Linked DNA regions of Homo sapiens: region 2 is linked to region 1. The links come from fine-mapping of genetic effects on gene expression. A gene starts in region 1. The other region holds a variant in brackets. All regions are shown on one strand. Distances are between the middles of the regions.

Region 1 (5,375 bases):
GCAGAAGAAGGTACACTCCATGTGAGCATTGGGAGCCAGTAGAAGCTCTTGAGTTACAGAATGAAATGGTGGCTTAGGACAATGACTTGGTATGCCACAATCTATTATGAAGCTGAAATGTAAATTACTCATTGCAGCATCTTGTAATGAATTACTACAAGAGGTAATCAGGTCCCAGGACCCGAACTATATTTTTCTCCCTGTGGGAGATTATACAATGTGAGACCTTAGGGTCTAGGCATTTCATAGACTCTATGTTGTGTTTAATTAGTTGATTATGGTGAACTGTAGACAAAATATTATGGTGAAAACCCTATAAGGCAGAATCTGTATCTGCTTACTGCAAGTATCTAGCCTGAAGGAGATAACTCTTTGATGAATGAATGATTGAGTGAAAGTCATGTACTTGGAAGGACCCAGGTTAGATAGGATCTGCTGCTAGCTAGCTGTATGACCCTTAAGATCTTATTATCTTTTTATTTTTATTTTTTTGATACGGAGTTTCACTCTTGTTGCCCAGAGTGGAGTGCAGTGGGCACATCTCGGCTCACTGCAACCTCCGCCTCCTGAGTTCAAGCAATTCTCTTGCCTCAGGTTTCCAAGTAGCTGGGATTACAGGCATGCGCCACCATGCTCAGCTAATTTTGTATTTTTAGTAGAGATGGGGTTTCACCATGTTGGTCAGGTTGTTCTCAAACTCCTGACCTCAGGTGGTCCGCCTGCCTCGGCCTCCCAAAGTGCTGGGATTACAGGCTTGAGCCACCGCGCTTGGCCCGCTTAGGATGTTTAACATGGCTAAGGCTTGGCTTCCTCATCTGTAAAAAAGGGAGAAGATTTAAGTCACAGGATTTTAAGTGAGAGTTTTGGGAAAATCTCTGGTACAAAATGAACACTAAGTACATTTGTTTCTTTCTGTATTTTTAAATGATATTCTGAAACTTCCCTGATTGGGATCTTCTACTGGCCTTTCCCCACGAGCCACTTGGTTTGAAATAGGCAGAGCATATGGTGATATTTGTTTATTGCTATTTTCAGTCTTTTCCATGTAAAACTGAAATTCTGACTATGCAATTTACCAGCCGAGTAACCTTGGGCACCCTCTTTGTGCCTCAAAATTTTAAGGATTGAGATGATATGCTATAGTGTTTGTATTAGTGCCTGGTACATGGTACTCAAAAGACACTAGCTGTAATTATTCTTCAGGACTTTATTTTTTTTACTTTCATTGCTAGCAGTTTTTCTACCCTCTCTCCTGCAGGCATTCTCCCAGAAAAAAGGCTGACTCTGTGGTGCCATTTGAGAGAAATAGGTTCAGTAGATTCTTCCAGAGATGACAAACGAAAAGACTTGATGTGGAAGTAAGAGAAGTAGGGGCGTCAGGACACTGAAGTGAGAGATCTTTTGTTCTCGTGGCATTGGAGAAGCCAGGAAAGAAAAAGGCTTTAGCAGGGACCAGGTGCGTCCACTTTGCAAGTGGATTTGGAGAGAACAAGCAGTGTTCACATATCAGTCCAGCAATGTCTCAAGACTCCTTCCTGGAACAGTCATCAGTTTAATCCAGTGAGGATGGTGTCTCTCTTCTTTCATGAGCATTTTCCTATTTCTGAAATATTAATAAATAGGTGCTTTGTTCCTAGGAAGTGGAGAGAAGTCAAGGAAAATACTCATCATACTCCTAGAAGTCAAGGAAAATACTCCTCGTACTCCTCATGGCCGCTGGAGCCCGCTGCTATGAGGTTATGGAGAACGTCTTGAACATTCCATTCCCCAGCACCTAGTGCAGTGACTAGCATAGTAGGCACTCAAAAAGTGTCTGTAGGATTGTATTTCAAACTTTAGTTGTCTTTCCCAAAGAAGCCTGTCGTGCCCACACGCGGCCGCAAGAAGTCCGCGCCTAGAAATAACATTTATTCTAAGGATCTCTGCGCAGAGATTCTTGGGAAGCGGTTCCCCTCCCGCATTCCCTTGTTACTCCTCCCCTCGGCCGCCTTTGAAAGAAGTGGCACGCCACATGATTCCATCCTTTCTCCCACCTCCAAAGACCTGGCTGATAATGGGCAGGAGCGTAGGCCAACCATAAAACTTTATTTCCTCTTCCAGCCAATAGCAAGAGGCGATGAGTATATGGCTCCTCTTTTGTGACTTCCCCCGCCCCCTTTGATTCCGCCCCCTATTCCTCCACTCAGATTCCACACTTGACAACACATCTGGCCAATGAGAAGTTCCTACTCTGCGTGGGAAGGATGGACTGACTAGATGATAGACGTCCATCCCTGGCCAATGGAATATCAAAAGTGCGGGAGGGGTGTAGAATGCAACCAATGGCGAGGTGCCAGAAACGAGCATCAGGGAAAGGGCGGGACGAAAGTGTTCGCGGGAGGGAGGGGAAGGCCCAGGGAACCAAGCAGCGCTGTCGCCGCCGCCGCTGCAGCCGGAGTTGGAGGAGGGAGAAGCTAGGAAGAAAATGGCGGCCGTGGCTGCAGAGGCGGCAGCGACTGCAGCGTCCCCCGGGGAGGGGGGCGCCGGCGAGGCCGAGCCGGAGATGGAGCCCATCCCCGGCAGTGAGGCCGGCACTGACCCCCTCCCGGTCACGGCCACTGAAGCGTCTGTGCCGGATGGCGAGACTGACGGGCAGCAATCCGCTCCTCAGGCCGACGAGCCGCCGCTCCCGCCGCCACCGCCGCCGCCGGGGGAGCTCGCCCGCAGCCCAGAGGCGGTGGGGCCGGAGCTGGAGGCTGAGGAGAAACTGTCCGTTCGGGTGGCGGAGTCGGCGGCAGCCGCGCCTCAGGGAGGGCCGGAACTTCCACCTTCTCCTGCATCGCCGCCGGAGCAGCCCCCGGCTCCCGAGGAGCGCGAGGAGCCGCCGCTGCCTCAGCCCGTAGCCCCGGCGCTCGTGCCGCCGGCGGGCGGGGACTCCACGGTGTCGCAACTGATCCCGGGCTCGGAGGTGCGGGTCACGCTGGACCACATCATTGAGGACGCGCTTGTCGTGTCGTTCCGCTTCGGGGAGAAGCTCTTCTCCGGGGTCCTCATGGATCTGTCCAAAAGGTACCGCGCCCGCCCCCAGCACCCTCCGGTCCGCTGGGTCCCCAGGGAGGGAGTGAGCCCGGGCGGCCCCCTCTCCCCGAGCCCTCGCTTCCCCGCTGCCCGGGGCCCCGCCCTCTGGTCCTGCGCGGCGCGTGGCGCGCGCTCCGAGTGGGGCAGGCGCGCGAGACCGGGAGAGGGCGGTCCCGGCCCCAGGTGGGCGCCTGCGGGGCAGGTGTGCCACCAGGTGGGAGGGTGCAGGTGCAGATGGGCTCACAGGTCTCACCCCTCACGCCTGGTCTTCTTCTGCGACTTGGCCTGGAGTCACCGTCACTGGGCGGGTGGGTTAATGCAAGATGCAGATGGATTTTTGCAGAGAACGGAGTGTTGGACGGGGGGACGGGGGGGCGGGGGGCATTGCTTGCGAGGAGGCACTTGTCTGTCCTCTAACGTTTAACTTTAGCGGGATTGGAGAAAGGGGTGTGTACATTGGGGTTCCCAAAAGGTTACCTGTCACTCCTTACAGGGGGAAGAGCATTTGTTAAAATGAACCTTTTAACTGTAATTCTTACGGTTAGAAGTCATTCCCGTTAGGTTAACCATTCAACAGAGAAGCATATTTTGCTAATTTTAATGATAGTTTAAGAAAAGTTTAAAGAAGAGATTGGAGATTTTTAAAAAATCCTTTAATGTCAAGGTGGTGTAGCATAAAAATGTTCAAGTAACTTCTAACACCTGGGATTCAGTTTATGTATTAAGGACAAGAAGGTTGAGTTCATCTACAAATTTGGCTTAACCACATTTTCATTTTTTGATTTAAAATGTTTTTGGGCTCTGCTTTCAACAGGGGAAGAGAACCTGTTCTAAGTCTGGAGTTAACCTTTTTATTCTCTTCTTTTGCAGATATGAAGTGCAGAGACTCCCATTCACGGCTTTCCATTCTGTTTCCTGCAACAGCACACGCTCTGATCGTATCTCACCTGTTTGCAATGGCTTATTAGTATGTTTTACTCTTAAACTTGCTTGCTCTCCCATCAAGACCCAGGAATCCTTCTTTCCCATTTGGGGAAAAAAGCCATTTAAAATTTCATATTGAAGTATGGTGTTTGAGGGGAAAGATGAGAGCAGTTATTCTGTATTATTTAATCTCAAATATCTTTTTTTTTTTTTTTGAGACGGAGTCTCACTCTGTCACCCAGGCTGGAGTGCAGTGGCGCCATATCGTCTCACTGCAACCTCCGCCTCCTGGGTTCAAGCGATTCTCCCGCCTCAGCCTCCCAAGTAGCTGGGACTACAGGCGTGCGCCACCATGCTGGTCTAATTTTTGTATTTTTTAACTAGAGCCGGGATTTCACCATGTTGGCCAGGCTGGTCTTGAAATCCTGACCTCAGGTTATCCACCCGCCTCAGCCTCCCAAAGGGCTGGGATTACAGGCATGAGCCGCCGTGCCCGGCCTCAAGTATCTTTTTTAAAAATAATTTTGGATTAGGGCATTTGCACTTCTGTTTATGTTTGTTTGTTTACTTATTTAATAGAGACAGGGTCTTGCTGTGCTGCCTAGGCTGGTCTCAGACTCCTGGGCTCAAGCGATCCTACTGCCTTGGCCTTCCAAAGTGCTGAAATTACAGGCGTGAGCCACTGTGCCCGGCCTGCACTCCTGTTTTCATAATTAGAAAGCAGAATAAGGTGAGTGTGCTTTCTATTGATGTATTTTATTTATTTATTTATTTATTTATTTTTGAGACAGAGTTTCGCTCTTGTTGTCCAGGCTGCAGTGGTACAATCTCTGCTCACTGCACCCTCCACCTCCCTGGTTCAAGTGATTCTCCTACCTCAGCCTCCCAAGTAGCTGGGATTACAGGCATGTGCCACCACGCCTGGCTAATTTTGTATTTTTAGTAGAGATGGGGTTTCACCATGTTGGTCAGGTTGGTCTCAAACTCCTGACCTCAGGTGATCCACCCACCTTGGCCTCCCAAAGTGCTGAGATTACAGGCATGAGCCACCTCGCCCGGCCTCTACTGATGTATATAATAGTAAGAGACACTCTGGTGTGTATGCTGTTGAATGAAACAGAAGAGATGGCCAGTGATTGTGTGAGAATCTGGATTTCAAATCTGCAAAAGGAAGGTGCAGAAGGTAAGTTGTTTTTGGAAATGGAATGGATAAGTGCTCATTGTGTTAGTGCTTTATTTTTAAAAAATTTTCTTTAGTGGAGAATTGCTATTGAGTTTTGGTCTCATGCTATCAGTGCTTAGAAACAGCAATTTCTTTTGTTGGAGGAGCTATTCCTAATATGAACCTTTTCCATTTGAATATTCTGAAGTGAAAGGATCCTATTACTATTATT
Region 2 (5,375 bases), 23 kb before region 1:
TAAAAACCTTCTAGACACTAGGCGTGGTGGTAGGCGCCTGTAATCCCACCTACTGGGGAGACTGAGGCAGGAGAATCGCTTGAACCTGGAAGGTGGAGGTTGCAGTGAGCAGAGATCATGCCACTGCACTCCAGCCTGGGCAACAAGAGTGAAATTCCATCTCAAAAAAAAAAAAACAAAAAACAAAAGTAAAAAAATAGCAGACGGTGAGGATGCAGAGAAAAGGGAGCAGTTTTACAATGTTGATGGGAATGTAGATTAGTACAACCTCTATGAGACACAGTATGGAGATTTCTTAAAGAACTAAAACAGGCCGGGCGCAGTGGCTCATGCCAGTAATCCCAACACTTTGAGAAGCCGAGGCGGGTGGATCACCTGCGGTCAGGAGTTTGAGACCAGCCTGACCAACATGGTGAAACCCTGTCTCTACTAAATACAAAAAATTAGCCAGGCATGGTGGCACATGCTTGTAATCCCAGCTACTTGGAAGCCTGAGGCAGGAGAATCATTTGAACCCGGGAGGCAGAAGTTGCAGCAAGCTGAGATTGTGCCATTGCATTCCAGCCTGGGAAACTAGAGCAAAATTTCATCTCAAAAAAAACCAACTACCATTCACCCACCAATCCCACTACTGGTTATCTACCCAAAGGAAAAGAAATCATCTTATCCAAAGGGCACCTGTACTCGTACATTTATTGCAGCACTCTTTTCAGTAGCAAACTCATGGAATCAACCTGACTGTCAATGATAGATTAAATTTTAAAAATATGGTACATACACACCATGGACTACTACACATCCATAAAAGAAAAAAATGAAATCATATCCTTTGCAGCAGCATGGATGCAACTGAAGCCCATTACCCTAAGCAAATTAACTCAGGAACAGAAAACCAATTAGGTAACAAAAAGTTAAACAAAAGGTACACGGGGACATAAAGGTAGAAACAACAGACACTGGGGACTCCAAAAGAGCGGAGGGAGGGAGAAAAGCAAGGGATGAAAAGCTTCCTGCGAGGGACGATGTTCACTCTTGGTAATGGGTTCATTAGAAGCTCAAACCTCAGATTTATAACATATACCCATGTAAGAAACCTGCCCATATACCCTCTGAATCTATAATTTTTTTAAAAGTTGTCATTTGAAGAATAATTTTTTTTTTTTTGAGATGGAGTTTTGCTCTTGTCATCCAGGCTGGAGTGCAATGGTGAGATCTCAGCTCACTACAACCTCTGCCTCCCGGGTTCAAGTGATTCTCCGGCTTTAGCCTCCCGAGTAGCTGGGATTACAGGCAGGCACCACCACGCCTGGCTAATTTTGTATTTTCAGTAGAGATGGGGTTGCTCCATGCTGGTCAGGCTGGTCTCGAACCCCCGACCTCAGGTGATCCGCCCGCCTTGACCTCCCAAAGTGCTGGGATTATAGGCGTGAGCCACGGCGCCCGGCCTGAAGAATAAATTTTTTAAAAGAAGAAAAAAAAAAAAATTAAGTGACCACTTCGTCTTTCTATGCCTTGGGTTCTTCATCTGTGAAATGAAGATTGGACTGTTGTAACAATTAAGTGAGATAATACATATGAACTGCTCAGCACAGTCACTGGTGCATAGAAGAAGGTACACAAAGATTAGGTATTACTGATTGAGTGCCTTCTATATCGTACGCATGGGGCTTGCATTTAGAGATGAGCAAAACAAGATGTGCTCCTTGTTCTCTTGTCTAGTTAAGAAGGAAACAAGAAGTAAATAATCACACACAAATAGAGAAAGCTGGCTGGGTGCGGTGGCTCACACCTGTAATCCCAGCACTTTGGGACGCCAAGGCGGGCGGATCACGAGGTCAGGAGATCAAGACCATTCTGGCTAACACACTGAAACCCCGTCTCTACTAAAAATACAAAACATTAGCCGGGCGTGGTGGCGGGCGCCTGTAGTCGCAGCTACTCAGGAGGCTGAGGCAGAATGGCGTGAACCCAGGAGGTGGAGCTTGCAGTGAGCTGAGATCGAGCCACTGCACTCCAGCCTGGGTGACAGAGCTAGACTCTGTCTCAAAAAAACAAAACAAAAAAAACAAAAGACAAAAAAACAACTAGAGAAAGCTATGTGGGAGTACCTGCTTCCTATGGCTAGGTAAGGGAATTGTGATCTGAAAGTCGCTAATGAGGTGAGGAGAGGGCACAATGTTCCAGGCAGAGTGAAAGGCATCTTCCTTGTCTCTGAAGATATTAGATGATCTGGGTTTTTGAGACCCTTCCTCTCAGAATCTCTGAGCCTAGCCCGGGCGTGGTGGTTCATGCCTGTAATCCCAGCACTTTGGGAGGTGGAGGCGGGTGGATCACCTGAGGTCAGGAGTTAGAGACCAGCCTGGCTAACATGGTGAGACCCCCTCCCCTGCAACCCACCATCTCTACTAAAAATAAAAAAATTAGCCAGGTGTGGTAGTGGGCGCCTGTAATCCCAGCTACTTGGGAAGCTGAGGCCAGGGAACCCAAGAGGCAGAAGTTGCAGTGAGCTGCGATCTCACCATTGCACTCCAGC[C/T]TGGGTGACAAGAGTGAAACTCCATCTCAAAAAAAAAAAAAAAGAATTTCTAAGCCTACGTGCTGTTTTCCACTATTCCAAGGACAAAGTTTGCATCTTGAAAGCTAATCACTAAACCAAAGCCTTCACAAAGGCCATCAGTGGTTTTACCAAACAGACATTCTTCTCTAACAGCGACTAATATGATTAGTACTGGGTCCAGGCAGGTGAGCAGTTATAAGGGTGAGTTTTGGGTTAAGGCCTAACGGGGGCTAGGTCTTCAATTTTTGGTGGGCTTCAGGTCACCTGTGGAGACTTTTCAATACATCCCAGGGCCACATCCCTGGGAAATCTCAAGTTGGTGGCTTTAAGTAGGGCCTGGTAATCTTCATTTTTCTCATGCTTAGCCAGGGATGAAAACAATAGCATTGTCATTTTGAACTCTGGCTCTACCACCCTCCATCTGGGTGACCTTGAGCAAGTTATTTAACCTCTTTGAGACTCAATTTCTTTCTTTTTTTTGAAACAGAGTCTCACTCTGTCACCGGGGCTGGAGTGCAGTGGTGCGATCTTGGCTCACTGCAACCTCCACCTCCCAGGTTCAAATGACTCTCCTGCCTCAGCCTCCCCAGTATCTGGGATGACAGGTGCCTGCCACTATACCCAGCTAATTTTCTGTATTTTTAGCAGAGACAGAGTTTCACCATGTTGTCCAGGCTGGTCTCGATCTCTTGACCTCGTGATCCACCCGCCTCGGCCTCCCAAAGTGCTGGGATTACAGGCGTGAGCCACTGTGCTCGGCCTGAGACTCAATTTCTTAACGTATAGAATGAAAATAATAATATCTACCCATAGGGCTATCATGAAGATGGAATGATATTAATATACAAGAAATGCTTATTAATGTAGTCCTTGCCATGTAGTAAACATCCCGAACATGGTAGTTATTTTTGTTAGCTTTTTTGTATAACAATAGAATATTCTTTTGGTAAGATTGGCAATGGGAATGATTTATTATAGAAATCATAGAATACTATGTATCCATAAAAAATGATGAGTTCATGTCCTTTGTAGGGACATGGATGAAGCTGGAAACCATCATTCTCAGCAAACTATCACAAGGACAAAAAACCAAACACCGCATGTTCTCACTCATAGGTGGGAATTGAACAATGAGAACACATGGACACAGGAAGGGGAATATCACACACCGGGGCCTGTTGTGGGGTGGGGGGAGCGGGGAGGGATAGCATTAGGAGATATACCTAATGTTAAATGACGAGTTAATGGGTGCAGCACACCAACATGGCACATGTATACATATGTAACAAACCTGCACATTGTGCACATGTACCCTAAAACTTAAAGTATAATTTAAAAAAATAATTAAAAAAAAAAAGAAATCCTGACCCACGGCAGACTGCCAAATGTTTCTTATATCACATGCCAGGTAGAACGGAGATATTTTCAAATTAAATTCTCTTCTCAGGAAGTTTCCTTTGAACTACTGAGATGGAATTTCACTGTTGTTGCCCAGGCTGGAATACAATGGCATGATCTTGGCTCACTGTAACCTCTGCCTCCCAGGTTCAAGCAATGCTCCTGCCTCAGCCTCCCCGAGTAGCTGGTATTACAGGTGCCCACCACCACATCTGTTCGTGTTCTTAGTAGAGACGAGGTTTCACCATGTTGGCCAGGCTGGTCTCGAACTCCTGATCTCAGGTGATCCACCCACCTCAGCCTCCCAAAGTGCTGGGATTACAGGTGTGAGTCACTGCGCCCGGCCTATTTTTGTCATTTATAATCTCTAGCATTTCCTGGGGGAGAGCATGGTCTCTCCTTTTTGTTTCAGTTGGAATTTGGCTCCATCACTTACTAGTTATGACATGACCCTGAAGAAACTAGATCACAGTTCTAAGCTATGGAGTCTGACAAATCAGGTTTGCAGCCTTGGCTCAGCCATTACTGGCTGTATTACCTTGGGCAAGTCACTTCTCTTTTCTTTCTTTTTTTATTTTTTTGTTACAGAGTCACTCTGTTGCCCAGGCTAGAGTGCAATGGCGCAATCTTGGCTCACTGCAACCTCCGCCTCCCAGGTTCAAGCGATTCTCCTGCCTCAGCCTTCTGAGTAGCTGGGATTACAGGCATCTGCCACCACGCCCTGCTAATTATTGTATTTTTAGTAGAGATGGGGTTTCCATGTTGGCCAGGCTGGTCTCGAACTCCTGACCTCAAGTGATCCACCCGCCTTGGCCTCCCAAAGTGCTGGGATTACAGGTGTGAGCCACTGCGCCCAGCCCATGCCTGACTTCTAATGCCTAAGAGGAAACATGCTCAGTACTAATCTTCTCCACCTCCAAATTCAAATCCTGAAGTTGCAGATTTGGAAGATGGGGAATTAGGGAAGCTATGATCATGCTGCTGCATTCCAGCCTGGGCAATAGAGTGAGACACTGTTTCAAAAAAAAGAAATCTGGCATGATTTCTCTGAGGGCTGAGCTTCTGAAAGTGAGCCAGGAGGTGGACAAGTCAGAAATCAACTGAGGTCGTGTGTAATGGCTCATGCCTGTAATCCCAACACTTTGGGAGACTGAGGCAGAAGGATTGCTTGAACCCAAGAATTTGAGAGCAGCCTGAGCAACATACTGAGACCCCATCTCTTCGTTTGTTTGTTTTTGAGACAGTCTCACTCTGTTGCCCAGGCTGGAGTGCAGTGGCGCAATCTCGGCTCACTGCAACCTCTGCCTCCCAGGTTCAAGGGATTCTCCTGCCTCAGCCTCCTGAGTAGCTGGGACTACAGGCATGCGCCACCACGACTGGCTAAATTTTTCTATTTTTAGTAGAGATAGGGTTTCACCATGTT

Direction of the effects. Positions count from the first base shown, and alleles are read on the strand shown. Sizes are in standard deviations (SD) of each study's normalised expression.
For the expression in testis of the gene that starts at base 2,403 in region 1, allele C in region 2 goes with a lower level than allele T (small effect, 0.18 SD a copy in GTEx).

What was found. PIP is the estimated chance that this variant, and not a neighbour inherited with it, causes the effect.
Region 2: its variant is the best candidate, but not a certain one, in a credible set for the expression of PWWP2A in testis (GTEx, PIP 0.82).

What each region holds. Positions count from the first base shown.
Region 1 is chr5:160,116,478-160,121,852 of GRCh38, reverse strand. It overlaps PWWP2A (PWWP domain containing 2A), which reads left to right and starts at 2,403. Exons shown (of 2, transcript NM_001130864.2): 1 at 2,403-3,048. The coding sequence starts at 2,465. RefSeq lists silencers at 2,278-2,327, 2,488-2,587, 2,688-2,867, 2,988-3,407 and an enhancer at 2,352-2,851.
Region 2 is chr5:160,139,584-160,144,958 of GRCh38, reverse strand. No RefSeq gene overlaps it. Among named protein-coding and RNA genes, the nearest start is that of PWWP2A, 23 kb to the right of the region's middle. The variant C/T (reference allele first, on the strand shown) is at 2,534.